Linked DNA regions of Homo sapiens: region 2 is linked to region 1. The links come from fine-mapping of genetic effects on plasma protein levels. A gene starts in region 1. The other region holds a variant in brackets. All regions are shown on one strand. Distances are between the middles of the regions. Region 1 holds the start of PCOLCE2 (procollagen C-endopeptidase enhancer 2). Region 2 overlaps XRN1 (5'-3' exoribonuclease 1).

Region 1 (5,244 bases):
CACAATCACGACATGAAAATCAAGCTGCTTTTATTTTTGTTTCAGAGACTTATTTGACATTTATGTTAATAGTATTTCAAACTTATTTTCTATGACTTCTTTCCTGGCCACATGTGCTATAATAACATAATGAAATCTGTACCAGTTTGTGACATGGTTGGCATTTTACAAGAGGCCGTCAAGGCATGTAAGAGCTGAGTTTTATATTATGGAAGGGGACCTCTCATATCTGCCTGCAAAATGACCTCAGTGGGAATACCTTATTGCAAAGTAGGTTTTACTTTTACATAAAGTTGGGCTTCCCGACTGTCTGATCAAGTCAATTTCTATAATTGTTTCAGGCCTCAGCTTCCCCATCTATAAAATAGGGATGATAATAGATACTTTCTCATACAGTTGTTTTGAGGATTCTGGGTGATTATACTTGCTAACTACTTGGCATGGTAAATGCCTGGCACACAGTAACTGCTAGTTTACACATTCAGTGGGGGCTACTTTTTAAAAAATCTAAGTCCTCCAGTGGCACAATCTGACTGAAAGAAGCTCTCAGTGAACCAACGTATTCAATTACTAAACAACTTCCCAACAACGAAAAAGTGAAGAAGGTAACAGTCAATGCTATGCTGACTGGAAAGATGACTCACTCTAGTTGACTCTAAATCAGTTAAAAAATATATGGCTGTCTCTAAATCCAGCTTATCTTGACTCAGCATAATCTATGTTATTACTAATCAGCATGGACTTTTTATTGGCCCTTGGCTGCTATTTAGATTCCCACCCCCCCATTCTCTATTCTTAGACTGCCTTTAGAGGTGGTTTCAACCCAGGAACATTAAGTGGGCTTTTTTTATTTTTTTTCTTTTTCCTTTCCTAATGAGCATAGAGTAGTCAAAGCACTATCTTTGATCTTCCATTTCCCACTGGGAATTTATGAAGGCACGAGCAACAAAAAACTTATGAAGGTCATTACAACAGGCCTTTGACTGAAAACAGCTTTAATTATGAATCTATAAAACTCAACTGAGTCACACTGGGCTTTCAGAAACACATCTGCTCTGAGAATTTATTCCTTCAAGCATTATCTTGTGCCCTTTGTAATCACTAATGCAGGACACGACTAGATCTATTATATTAATAAAAATCTTCCCAATAGTTGGGGTAAATCCAACATTTCACTATTTCAGGCATTTGCCTCTTACTCAAATCCTAACACCAGAGGAAAAAGGCAGCAGCCTCACACTGTTGCCAACACCCACTTCCAGGAGAATACCTTTTTAAAAAATGCTTACTGTGATTTTCCAAGTACATTTGCTATTTGGAGGGTACACTCCAGGAAAACCTTCACTGCCAATAAATCCAGACTCTCCAGTAAGAATGCCACCACATGTGAAAACAGGTCTGGGAACATAAAAGAAGAAAAGATAATGTAATTTGAAACATGGTCTAACAATCTGATGTTACCTTCAGAAAGGTGTAGCCTATTAATATAAATAAAAGTTAATGTTGATTAATCAATGCTTGCACCATATAAGGGATCTGAAAATTTGCTAGCTCCTAGAATATTTAAATTATAGCCTGACAAAGCATTCAGTCCAGCGCCATCTGTCTCCATCATAATAACACAAGATTATATATATGTATAATCAAGTCCTCGGCATTGTGGCAAAGTCTTGTAGGAAAATGGTAAATACATCAATTTAACTGGGGGAGTGGGAGAGAAGGTAAGAGCCAGGCTGAATGAGAAGCATGGTTTTAAAGAAAGACAGGCAAGCAATTGGTTAATATAAAAAAAGTTTGTCGTTCCCATATTTGGAGAGATGCCCAGTTCTCCTCCCCCTTTCTGAAAATCACTCGCCATTGGCAGAGCTTCCCATCGAAAGGGAGGCTGATGTTGATGGAGGCTGAAGAGGTGATGCCAAAGTTGGCCACCGGGCAGGTCCCACAGCCCAGCTCCTGGGGCCTTCCAGAGGTTGGCGAAGAGTTAACTTTCCGGAGCGGCTCCCTAGGCGCCGCGCCGCTAGGGTTGTTCCCTAGTTTACGTCTCTGGGCAAAGCCTCTCGGGGAAGGAAAAAAAACAGCGGTAAACCAAAATCCACATATTTGGGCCCCAGTGCTTCCCTCTGGCCCCATAGACACGAGGAGAGGGGAGACACAAGTCAGATTAAGCCCCGCCACGTGGTGGCCAAGCCAGCTGCAGGGCCATCCGGCAGGCCGGGCTGGGGACCCAGGAGGGAGCCCCGCGAGCAAGGATGGGTCCCGAAGTCCCGGGCTTAGCCTACCCGAGGGTGGCGGACGCCTGCACCGCGCGGGAGCGCAGGGTCGAGCGCTGGGTCACCCAGGCGCGCCGAAGCGGGTTGAGTAAAGCAGCAGGCGAGGCTGCAGGGGTGGAGGAAGGGAAAGGAGAGAAAGGGAGCCCGGGCAGGGGTCGCGTTACCTCTCTGGGGACTGCTGCCGCGAGAGCTGGGTGGCGGCAGCCAGCAGCAGGCAGAGTGGCGCCCAGGCGTTCGCGCCCCTCATGGCAGCGTAGACGCTCGGGGTTTGCACCCCACGGCGCGCGCGCCGGCACACACGCCCCTCCGCACCCACCGCGCTCACACCGCCGCTCACACTGGCAGCAGCGCTGGCTCACACCGGCGCTCGGCTGCCCGCGCGCTCCCTCTCACGCGCGCACCGCCGCGGGGCGGCCCAGGTAGCCGGGGGATACGCGGCCGGCAGGGCGGAGGCACTTTTAAAGGCGATTATGGTGCCGTCTGACTCGACGCTTAGTTTCCCCTGAGGAGCTGCTCTGGCAGCCACAGGCCACTGCTGAATATCCCGTTTGTTCTCCGGCGGCAGGAGGGGCGGCTCCGAGGCCAGAGCCGCCCCCTCTCGTGGGGCGGGCGAACGTCTCCTCCCGGCACCCCGGGACCGACGGGTCCTCTCTCGTCCAGCCCTCAGGGACCCCGGGGAGAAGAGGAACCCCTTGCGGAGTGGCACCCCAGCGGCCCGGGCCCCGACGCCCAGAGACGATTCTCAGGGAGGGCTTCTGGTTTTGCTTTGGGGAATGTTTTTCCCAGTTGCTTTTAAATAAAAAGTAATAGCGCTTGCTGGCTGCTGGAAAGCCTGGGGGTCCTTCTTTGTCTCCTTCAAAACCCAGATCCAAGGAAAGAAAGGGAAAAGGGATTTTATTGTATTTTAACTTCTGTGCTTATTCTCCTCTCTCTCTCTCTAGATACTTTTCTTTTTTTTACTGGTATGACAATGACAAGGAAGACAGTCTCTGTGCCGGGATTTAAACACGGGTTTTCAGGCGAGCGATTTCTGTGTGAACTGTCATTAAATGTCAGATAATGAAGACGGAACCAAATCAGCAAATCTCACCATCCCATGTCATGTTCTGAAAATGGTGTTTCTCTGCTTGCATCTCTCTGTTCTTAGACCTTTCCAACAGCATCTTTCTGTGGTATTAACGGGTTAAAATTTACGGAGAATTCGTTTTTCTTAGACGAACAATTCTAGCCTTGTGGAATCAATACTCTCTTTTACTTAATTACAGAAATATAATTTTAAACATTTATTTTGTTAAGAGCTTCCCAATAACCAGGGATTAATAAAAGAATGACAGGAACAGACTAGATTCATAGAGATTTTTAATAATCACCAGCTATGGGAGATACAGCTTAACTTTGATGCCTCACGTTGTTCCTTCTAAATTGTTTTCACCTTTCTAAGCAAGAAAATTAAGTATTAAAGTAGTTCTTATCGAGACTTTATTTCTAATAATGAGCTGTTAAGAATCTAAACACGGGTGGGCGCGATGGCCCACGCCTGTAATCCCAGCACTTTTGGAGGCCGAGGCGGGCGGATCACGAGGTCAGGAGTTCGAAACCAGTCTGGCCAAGATGGTGAAACCCCGCCTCGACTAAAAATACAAAAAATTAGCCAGGTGTTGCGGTGTGCGTCTGTAATCCCGGGTACTCGGGAAGCTGAGGCAGAAGTATCGCGTGAACCCGGGAGGCGGAGGTTGCAGTGAGCCGAGATCACGCCATTGCACTCCAGCCCCGGGCGACAGAGTGAGACTCCATCTCAAAAAAGAAAAAAAAAAAAAAAAGAACCTAAACACTCCTGGCAAGGAAGTAAGTAAAACTGGCTACAGGAAATATTCTGACTTTTCATAGTGAGTGCACCCTGAAGCCTATACTAGGAACCAGAATATACGGACAGGACTTAGATTATCTTACCATTTTTTTAAAAAGTGAAGGCAAAAACATCATAAAGTACAACTTTCAAAACTTCTCTACAGGCACCACACCCTTTATGACATTAAAAAAAAGGGTGACAGAATTTGGCAAACTGCTTTATATCCTGAAACACTCTCAACCCAATAAAAATGTCTTTAAAACAGGGAAGAGGAGAATAAATGGTTGTTGATTTTGCACGCATTTCAAGAATATGCTATCTAATAGCATAAGTGTTTTTAGATAATTGTTTATTTGAAAGTCATAGTTTTAAATTATAAAGGGAAATATTGCTCAATTCACTTTCTGGTAATGATTTGCAGTCCTCGTAAACCAGAAAATACTTCATTCAGGACTAAGCTAAGTTTTCAAAATTTAAAATAAATAACAAAGTATTAAATGTGCCTAAATAGGAAACTATTTGAACTAAAATACACAGCCATTTCTTAATTTATAGATTGATGACTGTGTTCATATGCTCACTAAAGAGTTAGGATTTTAACACCAATCATTCTGTTGTTGACACTCATAAGACATTGATTTTACCATGTGATTTTAGAATTTACTAAAACCCATATTATTGGCTCTTAAAAACACATATTTGACTTGGAACTACAGTTCTGACCAAAATTATAAACCTTAAATGTCCTGAGAAGTTGATGTGTTAAAATTGAGAGACTTTTATTAGTTTGTTCTCACGCCGCTATGAAGAAATACCCGAGACTGGGTAATTTATAAAGAAAAGAAGTTTAATTGACTCACAGTTTCACATGGCTGGGGAGTCCTCAGGAAACTTATAATCATGGCAGAAGGCACCTCCTCACAGGGTGATAGGAGAAGGGGAAAAGCCCCTTACAAAACCATCAGCTCTCATGAGCATTCACTCACCACCAGGAGAACAGCATGGGGGAAACCATTCCCACGATTCAATTACCTCCACCTGGTCCCACCCTTGACACCTGGGGATTATTACAATTCAAGGTGAGATTTGGGTGGAGACACAGCCAAACCATATCAAGACTCAAGT
Region 2 (5,244 bases), 540 kb before region 1:
TATATAATGATAAAGAGGTCAATTCAGCAAGAGGATATAACAACTGTATAAAAACAATTGTAAAAAAATATATTTCCAACACTGGAGCACCCAGGTATATAGAGCAAATATTACTGGAGCTAAAGAAAGAGATAAATCCAAATATAGTAATAGCTGGATACGTCAAGATTCCACTTTCAGCATTGTACTGACTTTCCAGATGGGAACCAAACAATATTTGGAAAAACCTGAATACTCCACCAAAAAACTATCAGAACTGATAAATTCAGTAAAGTTTCAGGATGCAAAATCAACATACAAAAATCAGTAGCATTTTTATATGTTAACGGCAAACAATCTGAAAAAGATATCAAGAAAGTAATTCCATTTACAATAGCTACAGATAAAACTAATTACCTAGGAATTAACCAAAGAGTTCTCTACAATGAAAACTATAAAACATTGATGCAAGAAATTGAAGAGGACACAAAAAAAGAGAAAGATATTCCAAGGTTCACAGACTGGAAGAATCAATATTGTTAAAATGTCCTATTACTCAAAGGGATCTACAGATTCAATGCAATCCCTGTCAAAATACCAATGAAATTCTTTACATAAATAGAAAAAACAATCATAAAATTTACATGGAACCACAAAAACCCCAGAATAGCCAAAGGTATCCTGAGCAAAAGGAACAAAACTGGAAGAATCACATTACCTGACTTCAAATCATACTACAGAACTATGGTAATGAAAATGGCATGGCACTGACATAAAAACAAACACACAGACCGGTGGAACAGAACAGTGAACCCAGAAATAAATCCACACATCTCATTTTTGACAAAGGCACCAAGAACATACATTGGGGAGAGAGTAGTCTCCTCAATAAATGGTGCTGGGAAAACTGGATATCCATGTGCAGAAAAATGAAACTAGACCTCCATCTCTTGCCATATACAAAAATCAAAATGGATTAAAGACTTAAGTCTAAGCCTAAAGTATGACAGTACTCAAAGAAAACATTGGGGAAACTCCGACACTGGACTGGGCAAAGATTTCTTGAGTAGTCCCCCACAAGCACAGGCAACCAAAGCAAAAATAAACAAATGGGATCACATCAAGTTAAAAAACTTCTACACAGCAAAGGAAACAATCAACAACATGAAGAGACAATACACAGAATGGGAAAAAATATTTGCAAACTATCCATCTGACAAGATGGATAATAACCAGAATATATAAGGAGCTCAAACAACTTTCTAGGAAAAAAATCTCATAATCTCATTAAAAAATGAGCAAAAGCTTCGAATAGACTTTTCTCAAAACAAGAGGCATAAATGGCAAACAGGTATATGAAAAGGTGCTCAGCCAGGCGCTCACACCTGTAATCCCAGCACTTTGGGAGGCCGAGGCATGTGGATCACGAGGTCAGGAGTTTGAGACCAGCCTGGCCAAGATGGTGAAACCCTGTCTCTACTAAAAATACAAAAACTAGCCAGGCGTGGTGGCACACGCCTGTAATCCCAGCTACTCAGGAGGCTGAGGCAGGAGAATCGCTTGAACCAGTGAGGCGAAGATTTCAGTGAGCTGAGATCGCACCATTGCACTCCAGCCTGGGCAACAAGAGCGAAATTCCGTCTTAAAAAAAAAAAAGAAAAAAAGAAAAGGTGCTCAACATCATTGATCATCAAAGAAATGCAAATCAAAACTATAATGAGATATCATGTCACCGCAGATAAAATGGCTTTTATCCAAAAGATAGGGAGTAACAAACGCTGGTGAGGATGTGGAGAAAAAGGTACCCCTGTATACTGTTGGTGGAGATGTAAATTAGTACAAACACTATGGAGAACAATTTGGAGGTTTTGTAAAAAACTAAAAATAGAGCTACCAAATAATTCAGCAATCTCACTGCTAGGTATATACCCCAAAGAAAGGAAATCAATATATTGCAGAGATTATCTCCACTTTCATGTTTGTTGCAGCACTGTTCACAACAGCTAAGATTTGGAAACAACCTAAGTGTCCATCAACAGGTGAACAGATAAAGAAAATGTGGTACATATACACAATGGAGTACTATTCGGCCATAAAAAAAGAATGAGATCCTGTCATTTGCAACAACATGGATCAAACTGGAGATCATATGTTAGGTGAAATAAGCCAGGCACAGAAAGACAAATTTCACATGTTTTCATTTATTTGTGGGAGCTAAAAATTAAAAACGACTGAACTCATGAAAATAGAGTAGAAGGATGGTTACTAGAGGCTGGGAAGAGTAGTGGGGGGGAGGGGTGGGAAGTGGGGATGGTTAGCAGGTACAAAAAAATAGATGAATTAGACCTAGTATTTGCTAGCATAATGGGGTGACTATAATAAAAATAATTGTATATTTTTAAATAAATAAGAGAACATAATTATGTTGTTTCTAACATAAAAGATAAATGCTTGAGGTGATGAATACCCTATTTACCCTGATGTGATCATTATGCATTGCATGCCTGTAACAAAATATCTCATGTAACCCATAAATATATATACCTACTATGTATCCACAAAAATTAAAAATAAAAGATAAAAAACAAATAAAAGGCAAGGATGCATGTTCTCACCACTTCTATTCAGCACTGTACTAGCTGTTGTAAACACAGCAATTAGGCAACAAAAGAAATAAAAGGCATTGAGATTATATAGGAAAAAGTAAAACTATCTCTATTTGCAGAAGCCACAAAAAATTAGGGCTAATAAACAGTTAAGGCAATATACAAAAATCAGTTTTATATCTATAACAGAAATGAACAATCAAAAAATAAAATTAAAAACCCAGTTCCATTGAAAAAAGCATGAAAAAGAGTAAAATATTTAGGAATAAATTTAACAAAAAAGTGTAAGACTTGCATAACTGAAAACTACAAGACATCATGGAAAGAAATTAAAGACCGAAATAAATGGAAAGACATCTTGTGTTCATGGACAGGAAAACTTAATACTGTTAAGATGACAATACTACCCAAAGTAACCTACAGATTCAATGCAATCCCTATAAAAATTCCAGCTGCCATTTTTGCAGAAATAGGCAAGATGATCATAAAATTCATATGGAAATGCAAGAGGCCCAGAATAGAGAAAACAATCCTGAAAAAGAAAAACAAAGAGGGCTCAAACTTCCTGATTTCAAAACTTACAACAAAGCTACAGTAATCAAGACTGTGTATTTCACATAAGGACGGGCATATACATTAGTGGAATGGAATTGAGAGTCCAGAAATGAACCCATACATCTACAGTCAATTACTTCTTAAAAATGAGATGGTGTCTTAATATGTTTCCCGGGCTGGACTCAAACTCCTGGGTTCAAGCAATCCTCCTGCCTCAGACTCCTGGGCAGCTGGTACTACAGATGCATGCCTGGCTCTATAGCCAAATAATTTTTGACAAGGGTGCCAAGACTATTCAATGGGGTGTCAAGAAAATTCAATGGGGAAAGAGTAGTCTTTTTAACAAACAATGTTTGGATAAATGGATATCCACATGCAGAAGAATGAATATGAACTCCTACATCATACCATGTATAAACTTTTACTCAAAATGGAAAGAGACCTAAATCTAAAAGCTAAAACTATACAATTCTTAGAAGAAAACACACTGTAACTCTTTGTGACTTTGGATTAGGGAATGGTTTCTTAGATGTACACCTAAGGTACAAGCAACCAAAGACAAAGCAGAAAAAATACACAAATTGGACTTCATCAAAATTTAAAACTTTCGTGTTTCAATAGAGTATAAAGAAAGTTAAAAGAAAACCCACAGAATGGGAGAAAATATTTGCAAATCACATATCCAAGAAGCATGTAATATCTAGCATGTATAAAGAACTCTTACAAACCAAGAAAAAAGATTAAAAAATCCAATTAAAAAATGAACCAAGGATTTGAACTGACATTTCTCCAAAGATGATATACATGAAAAGATGCTCAACATTATTAGTCATTAATAAATTACAAATGAAAACCACAAGAACATTCCACCTCACACCTAGTAGGACGACTATTGTCAAAGAGAGGGACAATAACAAATGTTGTGAAGGATGTGGAGAAATTGGACCTTCACACATCCCTGGTGCAAAGGTAAAATGGTAATATCCAAACAGTTCGGCAGTTATACAAAAAGCTGAACTTAAGAGTTACCACTATATGACTCAG[TA/T]ATTTCACTCATATGCATATACCCAAGAGAACTGAAAACATATGTTCACACAAAAACTTTTCCACAGATATTCATAGCAGCATTATTCACTATAGCCCCAATGTGGAAACAACCTCCATGTCTACAAATGGATGAACCGATAAAATGTAGCATTCATACAATGGAATATTATTCAGCCATAAGAAAGGATGAAGTACTGATACAGTTGTCCCTCCATATCTGTGGAAGATTGCTTCCAAGACCCTCCTGTGGCTATCAAAATCCACATATGTTCAAGTCCCTTACAGAAAATAGTGTAGTATTTGCATATAATCTACAAACATACTCTTTATATATTAAATAATCCCTAGATTACTTATAATGCTTGATACAATGTAAATGCTGTGTAAATAGTTGTCATACTGTATTGTTTAGGGGAATAATAAGATTAAAAAGTGTGCACATGTTGAGAGCAGACACAATCATCCTCTTTTTTTTTTTTTTGAGAAGGGGTCTCACTCTGTCACCCAGGCTGGAGTGTAGTGGCTGATCTTAGCTCACTGCAACCTCCGCCCCCCAGGCTCAAGCAATCCTTCTACCTCAGCCTCCTGAATAGCAGGGACTACAGGTGCATGCCACCACACCTGGCTAATTTTTGTATTTTTGGTAGAGATAGGGTTTTGCCATGTTGCCCAGGCTGGTCTTGAACTCCTGGGCTCAAGTGATCTGCCTGCCTTGGCCTCCCAAAGTGCTGGGATTACAGGCATGAGCCACCGTGCCCTGCCTTTTCTGAATATTTTTGATCCTCAGTTGGTTGAATCCATGGATGTGGAACCCACAGGTACAGAGGGCCGACTGAACATGCTACAACATAGATAAATCTTGAAAATACACAAGTGAAAGAAGCCAGTCATAAAAGTTCATATATTTTCTGATTCCATTTATATGAAGTGTCTAGAATAGGCATATCCATAGAGGCAGAAAGTAAACTATGGGTTGCCAAGGCCTGGAGGAGTGACTGCTAATAGGTATGGTGTTTCTTTTTCAGGTGACAAAAAATGTTCTAAATTTAGATGGTGG

Evidence for each region. PIP is the chance, under the fine-mapping model, that this variant and not a neighbour inherited with it causes the effect. Protein levels are from the aptamer-based SomaScan assay of Sun 2018.
Region 2: its variant is fine-mapped to the plasma level of the PCOLCE2 protein (Sun 2018, PIP 0.95).

Annotation. Positions count from the first base shown.
Region 1 is chr3:142,886,380-142,891,623 of GRCh38, forward strand. It overlaps PCOLCE2 (procollagen C-endopeptidase enhancer 2), which reads right to left and starts at 2,704. Exons shown (of 9, transcript NM_013363.4): 1 at 2,435-2,704; 2 at 1,290-1,398. The coding sequence starts at 2,517. It overlaps LOC124909443 (a long non-coding RNA gene), which reads left to right and starts at 1,885. Exons shown (of 2, transcript XR_007096122.1): 1 at 1,885-2,080; 2 at 3,212-4,388. RefSeq lists a silencer at 2,647-2,696.
Region 2 is chr3:142,341,832-142,347,075 of GRCh38, forward strand. The region is part of intron 33 of XRN1 (5'-3' exoribonuclease 1); the gene reads right to left. Among named protein-coding and RNA genes, the nearest start is that of XRN1, 100 kb to the right of the region's middle. The variant TA/T (reference allele first, on the strand shown) is at 4,185.